Regions from separate parts of the Homo sapiens genome. Here all the other regions are linked to region 1. The links come from fine-mapping of genetic effects on gene expression. A gene starts in region 1. Each other region holds a variant in brackets. All regions are shown on one strand. Distances are between the middles of the regions.

Region 1 (2,764 bases):
GGTGGGGGTTCCCAGAAAGGAGGGGGAGAGGAGCCCGAGTAGGGGAATCCTGCCCTCTCAAGTAAAAAGCTGGATCCCCGGCAGCAGGCTGCAGCCCGTCCTCGCTAAGGAAACGACGAGGCAGACAGAGGGCCTTTTGCGCGGAAAGGCAGAAGGCAGACACTTTCCGAGGTCCGGACGCAAGCCGATCCCCCATCCCCCGAGGGAGGCGAAGGGTGCCCCATGGGTGGCTGAGGGGACGCCCGGCCCGCGAGGGACAACCCGAGGAGGAGCAGTTTCATCTGATTAACACCTGAGTCTCGTCCAGGCAAGCACAGATACTGGCGTGGGGCCGCCCAGGTGGGGGGAAGGGAAGGAGAGGAAGGGGGTGGAGATGGGATTCCCCCCTCTCTCTGAAGAGCACTAGCGGAGGATGCGCCCAGGCCAGCCGAGAGCGGCATGCTTCAGACTGCGGAGCCGGGATCCCGCCGCCTGCACCGACAGCGCGGAGCCCCGCAGCGCCCTCCGCACCGGCCCCTCGGTCCCCGGGGGCCCAGGACTTTGCTTCCGAAGGCGCTGGGGCCTAACATCCCACGGGGTCGACCCCGGCTCCTGGGGCCTGGGGGAGGGGACCCGCGGGAACACCCCCAATCTCCGGCGGTTCTCAGCGGTTGTAAAATGCACCCCCGCGGTTCCCTTCTTCAGCCTTCCCTCCTCCCGAGGCCGCAGAGAAGGGCCACCACAGGCGAAAAGCCTAAGGCAATGCAGGGACAGCAGCCTCATAGGTCCCAGACCTCCTCCCCCGGTTACCTGTAAGGACTCCGACACGGATTTGATGGTCGTGGTTAGTAAGGATCATTCCCTCGGTCGCCATGTTTCCCAGCGCAGTCACCGCACTGACAGGAGCCGGGAGAAACCGGAGCCCGGAGCGCGCGGGCCGGGAGCGCGCTCGCCGAGGAGAGCGCGACAGCTAGGGAGCCAGAGAAGCGCGAGGAGAGCGGGGAAGGAGGGGGAGGCCACAGAGTGCACGGTGGCCTGCGTGGGGGAGAGGCCGCGCCGGGAGTGCGCGGGTCCGCGGGAGGGGAAGGAGTCAGGGCGCGCGGCCCCAAGTCCGGCAAGAAGGAGGCAAGCTTGGGGGGCGCGGTGGCCGCACGGGGAGAGCGCGCGGAGGCGGCAGAACGAGGCCGGAGAGTGTCGGAACGCTCTGCGGAGCGCGAGACCCAAGGCAGCTAGATGGCAGGACTGAGAGGAAAGGATAGCACACGCTCTGGAGGTTGCGGGGGCGGACTCGGGGACAAGGGCGGAGCTACACCCCTAGGCGTGGAACTCGTGGAGAGTGAGGGGAGGAGTGAGAGCTCGGGTGCTGAGTATTGGGAGCGGGAAGGAGCCGGCCCAGCCTGAGTAGGACCGCGGATCGCTCCTGGGCGCGCGAGTAGCACCGGATTGGCTGAGTGAACGCGGAGCGTGTGCGCGCGAGGCACGAACGCAACCTCGGCCGGGCCCCAGACAGAAGCAATCCCCTGCCGAGCCTGACACCTCGTTGGTTGTCCGCGCCTTAGGCTGGCTCTCGCCGGCGGGCCGGCTTTCTACGCGGGGGCAGCGAGGCTGGCTCAGCACCCCGGGCCTCCTCTTGCAACCCTCGGGAATGGCCGGCCGCCCCACTGAAAGCGCTGGGGAACCGAGAGGTGTCTTAGAAAGCTGCATGAGTGGCAGAACGGTGGCTACTATGACAGAGAGGCCGCCGTGGGCGAAGAGGGAGGTATCCTGTCCTGCCTCGTGCTAGCCGCTGGCTTCCTCAGTGGGCTCTCCCTGAAGGAGGATTTCCGCTTCACCTATGCTTTAGGATTCCATCTCCAGTCAGTGCCTGCAAGACGATCCTCACGTGCGAAACTGAGGAGTCTGAGGCAGGGCAGCTGGAGTGGAGATACCTGGCTTCTCTTCCTCCTGCTGTCCCACGGTTTTGTGGCCTTAAGCCTCTTCGCCATGAGCGCTGCTTTTAGATGAAAAGCATCAATCTCCTTAGCGAACGAGAACGTGTTCCACCTGAACCACAGTCCATTGCCGCGGCGATTTTCATTTCAGTATTCGTGGGATGTGAGATTACCATGAAAGTAGCTTTTGTTGCCATTTATTTCCATGTGCCTTTCATGAAACGTGTTATTAATCACCTGTGGCTATTCTACGTTAGTTTCTTACTATCGTTCTGGACCTTTCAACTTCTGAATTTTAAAAAGTTATATGCGTGTGTGTGTGTGTACACACACTCATATGTATATGTTTTCTCTTCTTAGCTGTAGTAACCTGGAGGCATAAAAGTGAAAAGCAAAGTATTAAAAGATGTATATCAGTGTTTATACACAAATTTCAAAGTCACTTTGATAGGTTTTTTTTTGGTTTTGGTTTTGGTTTTTTTTGATCCGGAGTCTCGCTCTGTCGCCAGGCTCCAGTGCAGTGGCGCGATCTCGGCTCACTTGCAACCTCTGCCTCCCAGGTTCAAGCGATTCTCCTGCGTCAGCCTCCCGAGTAGCTGGAACTACAGGCGCGTGCCACGACACCCAGCTAATTTTTGTATTATTAGTAGAGACGGGGTTTCACCATGTTGGCCAGGATAGTCTCGATCAAGATCTTGACCTCGTGACCCGCCCGCCTTGGCCTCCCAAAGTGCTGGGATTACAGGTGTGAGCCACCGTGCCTGGCCGATTATGAGTTTTTTATTGTTCCGTTGGAACATGAAATTACCCATCCTCTGAAGATTCACGTGCTTATGTATTTCATTTTAAATAAT
Region 2 (2,764 bases), 320 kb after region 1:
CCATCAAGCTACCAATGACTTTCTTCACAGAATTGGAAAAAACTACTTTAAAGTTCATGTGGAACCACAGAAGAGCTCGCATTGCCAAGTCAATCCTAAGCCAAAAGAACAAAGCTGGAGGCATCACACTACCTGACCTCAAACTATACTACAAGGCTACAGTAACCAAAACAGCATGGTACTTGTACCAAAACAGAGATATAGACCAATGGAATAGAACAGAGCCCTCAGAAATAATACCACACATCTACAACCATCTGATCTTGGACAAATCTGACAAAAACAAGAAATGGGGAAAGGATTCCCTATTTAATAAATGGTGCTGGGAAAACTGACTAGCCATATGTAGAAAGCTGAATCTGGATCCCTTCCTTACACCTTATACAAAAATTAATTCAAGATGGATTAAAGACTTACATGTTAGACCTAAAACCATAAAAACCCTAGAAGAAAAGCTAGACAATACCATTCAGGACATAGGCATGGGCAAGGACTTCATGTCTAAAACACCAAAAGCAATGGCAACAAAAGCCAAAATTGACAAATGGGATCTAATTAAACTAAAGAGCTTCTGCACAGCAAAAGAAACTACCATCAGAGTGAACAGGCAACCTACAGAATGGGAGAAAATTTTTGCAATCTACTCATCTGACAAAGGGCTAATATCCAGAATCTACAAATAACTCAAACAAATTTACAAGAAAAAAACAAACAACACCATCAACAAGTGAGCAAAGGATATGAACAGACACTTCTCAAAAGAAGACATTTATGCAGCCAACAAACACATGAAAAAATGCTCATCATCACTGGCCATTAGAGAAATGCAAATCAAAACCACAATGAGATACCATCTCACACCAGTTAGAATGGCGATCATTAAAAAGTCAGGAAACAGCAGGTGCTGGAGAGGATGTGGAGAAATAGGAACACTTTTACACTGTTGGTGGGACTGTAAACTAGTTCAACCATTGTGGAAGTCAGTGTGGCGATTCCTCAGGGATCTAGAACTAGAAATACCATTTGACCCAGCCATCCCATTACTGGGTATATACCCAAAGGATTATAAATCATGCTGCTATAAAGACACATGCACACGTATGTTTATTGCAGCACTATTCACAACAGCAAAGACTTGGAACCAACCCAAATGTCCAACAATGATAGACTGGATTAAGAAAATGTGGCACATATACACCAAGGAATACTATGCAGCCATAAAAAATGATGAGTTCATGTCCTTTGTAGGGACATGGATAAAGCTGGAAACCATCATTCTCAGCAAACTAT[C/T]GCAAGGACAAAAAACCAAACACCGGATGTTCTCACTCATAGGTGGGAATTGAACAATGAGAACACTTGGACACAGGAAAGGGAACATCACACACTGGGGCCTGTTGTGGGGTGGGGGGAGGAGGGAGGGATAGCATTAGGTGACATACCTAATGTAAACGATGAGTTAATGGGTGCAGCACACCAACATGGCACATGTAGACATATGTAACAAACCTGCACATTGTGCACATGTACCCTAAAACTTAAAGTATTTTAAAAAAAACCACACACACACACAAAATTAGCCGGGTGTAGTGGCGGGCACCTGTAGTCCCAGCTACTCGGGAGGCTGAGGCAGAAGAATGGCGTGAATCCAGGAGGCGGAGCTTGCAGTGATCTGAGATCATGCCACTGCACTCCAGCCTGGGTGACAGAGTGAGACTCCGTCTCAAAAACACACACACACACACACATATAAAGAAAATAGCCAGGCATAGTGGCATAAGCTTGTAGTCCCAGCTACCAGCAAGTTGAGGCAGAAGGATTGCTTGAGCCCAGGAGCTTGAGGTTACAGTGAAATTTGATGTGCTATTCACTGCACTGCAGCCTGGGTGACAGAATTAGACCCTGTCTAAAAAAAATAAAAATTAAAAAAAAAGTTCAAGTCAATTTTGGCTTCTATTTTATAACATTCATTCTATTTTAATTTTAAAAATACCCTCAATTACTTTTTATATAGCTTATTTTACCCAAATAGTTAAGCAAAATTAACATCCCTGAAAGATGCACCATCCTTTTTCTGTGGCTTTGAGTGTGCCTTGACCCACTCAGTGGCTTCCTGAGCATAAGATGTCTAATTTGGGAAGCACGATCTTAAATGTTAGTTGTCTTTTGCTCAAGTTTTCTTTCTGCTAGGGGTGCCATTTCCTTCTTGAGCAGGAGAATTCTTGGTTATCAGCTCAAATCCTACCTCTTAATTTAAAATTACTGAACATGTTAATTCAATAAAGAGTTCATGATAGGCTTTTCCTGCTAGCCTGCCTGGCCCTACTCCTCCCATTAGAACTAACTTAGCCTCCCTTTGTATTTCCATAGCACTTTGTAATGCCCCTGTCATAGTTCTAATCCCATCATGTTAGGACTTAGTTTGGATGTGTCTGTTTGTCACTAGTTCAGTGAAGGCAAAAGCAAAAGAGAATCTTACTTATTTTTGCACCTTGGAGCCCATCACAGTGCCTGGTATGTGGCTGGAGCTCTTTTCACCAGAAAGGAAGAGGCTACCCAGGCTTTGAATGGTGTGTGCTGTTGAACTCTGATGGTAAAGAGATTCACCTGGATCACTGCTCCCTACAGCAGAATCACCTGCAGGGCTTGATTGGGTAAAGTTTCCCACTCTTGCCTTTACTCATTTCAGGCTGAGGATGTTTGCAAGAGATAGTAGGGACCTTTCCTCTAACCCTAATTAAACTTGCCTTTGCTGGCAAATATATTC
Region 3 (2,764 bases), 590 kb before region 1:
TAAAGTACCTGAGCTACACTGGAGAGTCATGAAAAGCATGATAAAAGGATTTCTGATTTGAATATGAAGAATGAGTAAGAGCTAAGTAGGGGTGTGTGTGTGCAGGTATGTAGGTGGGGAGAGACAAAGGGAGGGAAATAGGGAGGGAAAGAAGGAGAGGGAGAGAGAGGAAAAGATAGACATGAAGTGGAAGTGCTCCATCATTGTGTGCAAAGAGAACATATGTGCAAAGGCCTTGGTTCATGTCTTCCTTATATCTTATACTCTAGCTATTATCAACTGCTAGTACTATCCCTGAGAATACCAAGATAACTCATATGTTGGCTCCGTGACATGTGCTACTTCCACTACTTAAAGCGTCCTTTTCTTATTCTTGCCTTCTGATTAAAGATTTTTTAGCTGTTAAGACTCAGCTCAAGTGTCATCTTCTCTGTGAAGTCATATCTGACTCCTCTCCCCTCAAGAGTTGCGTGCATCCTCTTTTGTTTCCCCAGTGTAGCCTGAAATCAATTATGGCTTCTAAATATATTTACAGTATTTGCTAATCCCTGGCACTTGCTGTACAATAGGTGTTAAATAAATGTTCAATATGTTAAGTATTCAAAAATGGTTGGCAGACGAATGAATGTGGCTACAAAAACGTTCTTAGAAGATTCATGCACGAATGACCAAATAAGTAATATTTTCTAACACAAAGTTTTATATTTGTTATATATACTTTTTGCTGATCCATATATATTGTTTCCTTCAAAATTTGAGTCAACATCTTAAGAATGTTTAGAAAGACTGCTTTGGCTGGGCAAATCACTTCAGCTCAGGAGTTTGAGACAAAGCTGGGCAACATGGCAAAACCCCACCTCTACAAAAATACAAAAAATAGCCAGGTGTGGTGGTGTGTGCCTGTAGTCTAGCTACTTGGGAGGCTGAGGCACAAAGATGGCTTGAGAACCGGGTGGGGGGTGGGGAGTGGAGGTTTTAGTGAGCTGGGATTGTACCACTACACTCCAGCCAGAGCAACATAGCGAGATCCTGTCTCAAAAAAAAAAAAAAAAA[G/AAG]ACTGCTTTGATTAATTCTGTATAACTTAGATTATGTCATTATTCTGTCTAGCATAGTGCCTAAGTCATCGCTGATAATAAATATTTGTTAAAAGAATAAAGAAATGAAGTTGGCATTCTCAAAAAGTTTTTGGTGGGAAGTATTTCTCTTTTCTCCTGTTCCCCCACACATGCACATAAACTCAAAATGCTCATATCAATATTCTGCATAATCCTCTAAATAAACTGAATAATGAGTAGCTGGAGGTCATCTGGGGAGGTCATCTGGGGCAAGCCTAGTATGGAGTTCCAGGGAGGTCCATATGTGAAAGTACTCTGAAGCGATTCTAAGGAGCAAGGTCTTTGTTATCAGGGAAAGTATACCAATTGTGGAGAGAATATGTGCTCACTTGCACTATGTTCTCAACCTTACTCTGAACCTTTCCAGTTGGTAAATGTGTCTCTATATTGCTAGCTAAGGAAGAATCAGTCAAACAACTACATAGAAGTTTCTTGGTACCAAGAGAGGAGTCATTTTTCTTATTTCTCTTATTTCTCAACAGTTAATGTGCATGCAAATCATCTCGAGATCTTGTGAATATACAGATTCTAATTTAGTAGGGCTGGGACAAGGTCTGAGATTCTAAATTCTTTTTTTTTTTTTTTTTTTTGCCTTTTTCTTTTCTTTTTTTTTGTTTTTTTATTATTATTATACTTTAAGTTTTAGGGTACATGTGCACAATGTGCCGGTTAGTTACATATGTATACATGTGCCATGCTGGTGTGCTGCACCCATTAACTTGTCATTTAGCATTAGGTATATCTCCTAATGCTATCCCTCCCTGCTCCCCCCACCCCACAACAGTCCCCAGAGTGTGATGTTCCCCTTCCTGTGTCCATGGGTTCTCACTGTTCAATTCCCATCTATGAGTGAGAACATGCGGTGTTTGGTTTTTTGTCCTTGCGATAGTTTACTGAGAATGATGATTTCCAATTTCATCCATGTCCCTACAAAGGACATGAACTCATCGTTTTTTATGGCTGCATAGTATTCCATGGTGTATATGTGCCACATTTTCTTAATCCAGTCTATCATTGTTGGACATTTGGCTTGGTTCCAAGTCTTTGCTATTGTGAATAGTGCCACAATAAACATACGTGTGCATGTGTCTTTATAGCAGCATGATTTATAGTCCTTTGGGTATATACCCAGTAATGGGATGGCTGGGCCAAATGGTATTTCTAGTTCTAGATCCCTGAGGAATCGCCACACTGACTTCCACAGTGGTTGAACTAGTTTACAGTCCCACCAACAGTGAGATTCTAAATTCTAACAAGCTGATGCTGAGGCTGCTGGTCCATGGATTACCCTTTTTGAGGAGCAGAGCACTATAAGATCAAACTGAATATAGACAAATTCAGACTAAGAGAAAATTTAAGGAATAAAAAAATTAGTGAACTACAGGAGTCCAAATTTTACATTAACACCAAGGTTTGTCTTATGAAGACAGAAAAATAAGTATCAATCTATCTAACTTCCTGATACAGTCATGAGTCACTTAACAATGGGGATATATTCTGAGAAATGCATTGTTAGGCAATTTTGTTGTGTGAACATCATCACAGAGTGTACTAACACAAACCTAGATGGTATAGCCTATTATACAACTAGGCTACATGGTATAGCCTATTGCTCTTGGGTTACAAACTTGTACAGCATGTTACAATACTA

Which allele goes with the higher level. Alleles are on the strand shown, and positions count from the first base shown. SD is a standard deviation of normalised expression in the study named. Not every link is listed here.
As copies of C replace T in region 2, the expression in prefrontal cortex of the gene that starts at base 1,234 in region 1 goes down (large effect, 1.0 SD a copy in ROSMAP).

What was found. PIP is the estimated chance that this variant, and not a neighbour inherited with it, causes the effect. A credible set is the group of variants that fine-mapping cannot tell apart.
Region 2: its variant is the best candidate, but not a certain one, in a credible set for the expression of GPHN in prefrontal cortex (ROSMAP, PIP 0.61).
Region 3: its variant is the best candidate, but not a certain one, in a credible set for the expression of GPHN in whole blood (INTERVAL, PIP 0.74).

What each region holds. Positions count from the first base shown.
Region 1 is chr14:66,506,617-66,509,380 of GRCh38, reverse strand. It overlaps GPHN (gephyrin), which reads right to left and starts at 1,234. Exons shown (of 23, transcript NM_020806.5): 1 at 790-1,234. The coding sequence starts at 853. RefSeq lists an enhancer at 250-409 and silencers at 500-649, 1,000-1,189.
Region 2 is chr14:66,182,528-66,185,291 of GRCh38, reverse strand. No RefSeq gene overlaps it. Among named protein-coding and RNA genes, the nearest start is that of LINC02290, 72 kb to the right of the region's middle. The variant C/T (reference allele first, on the strand shown) is at 1,291.
Region 3 is chr14:67,094,906-67,097,669 of GRCh38, reverse strand. All of the region lies in intron 12 of GPHN (gephyrin), which reads right to left. The region is part of intron 4 of LOC105370538 (a long non-coding RNA gene); the gene reads left to right. Among named protein-coding and RNA genes, the nearest start is that of GARIN2, 93 kb to the left of the region's middle. The variant G/AAG (reference allele first, on the strand shown) is at 1,054.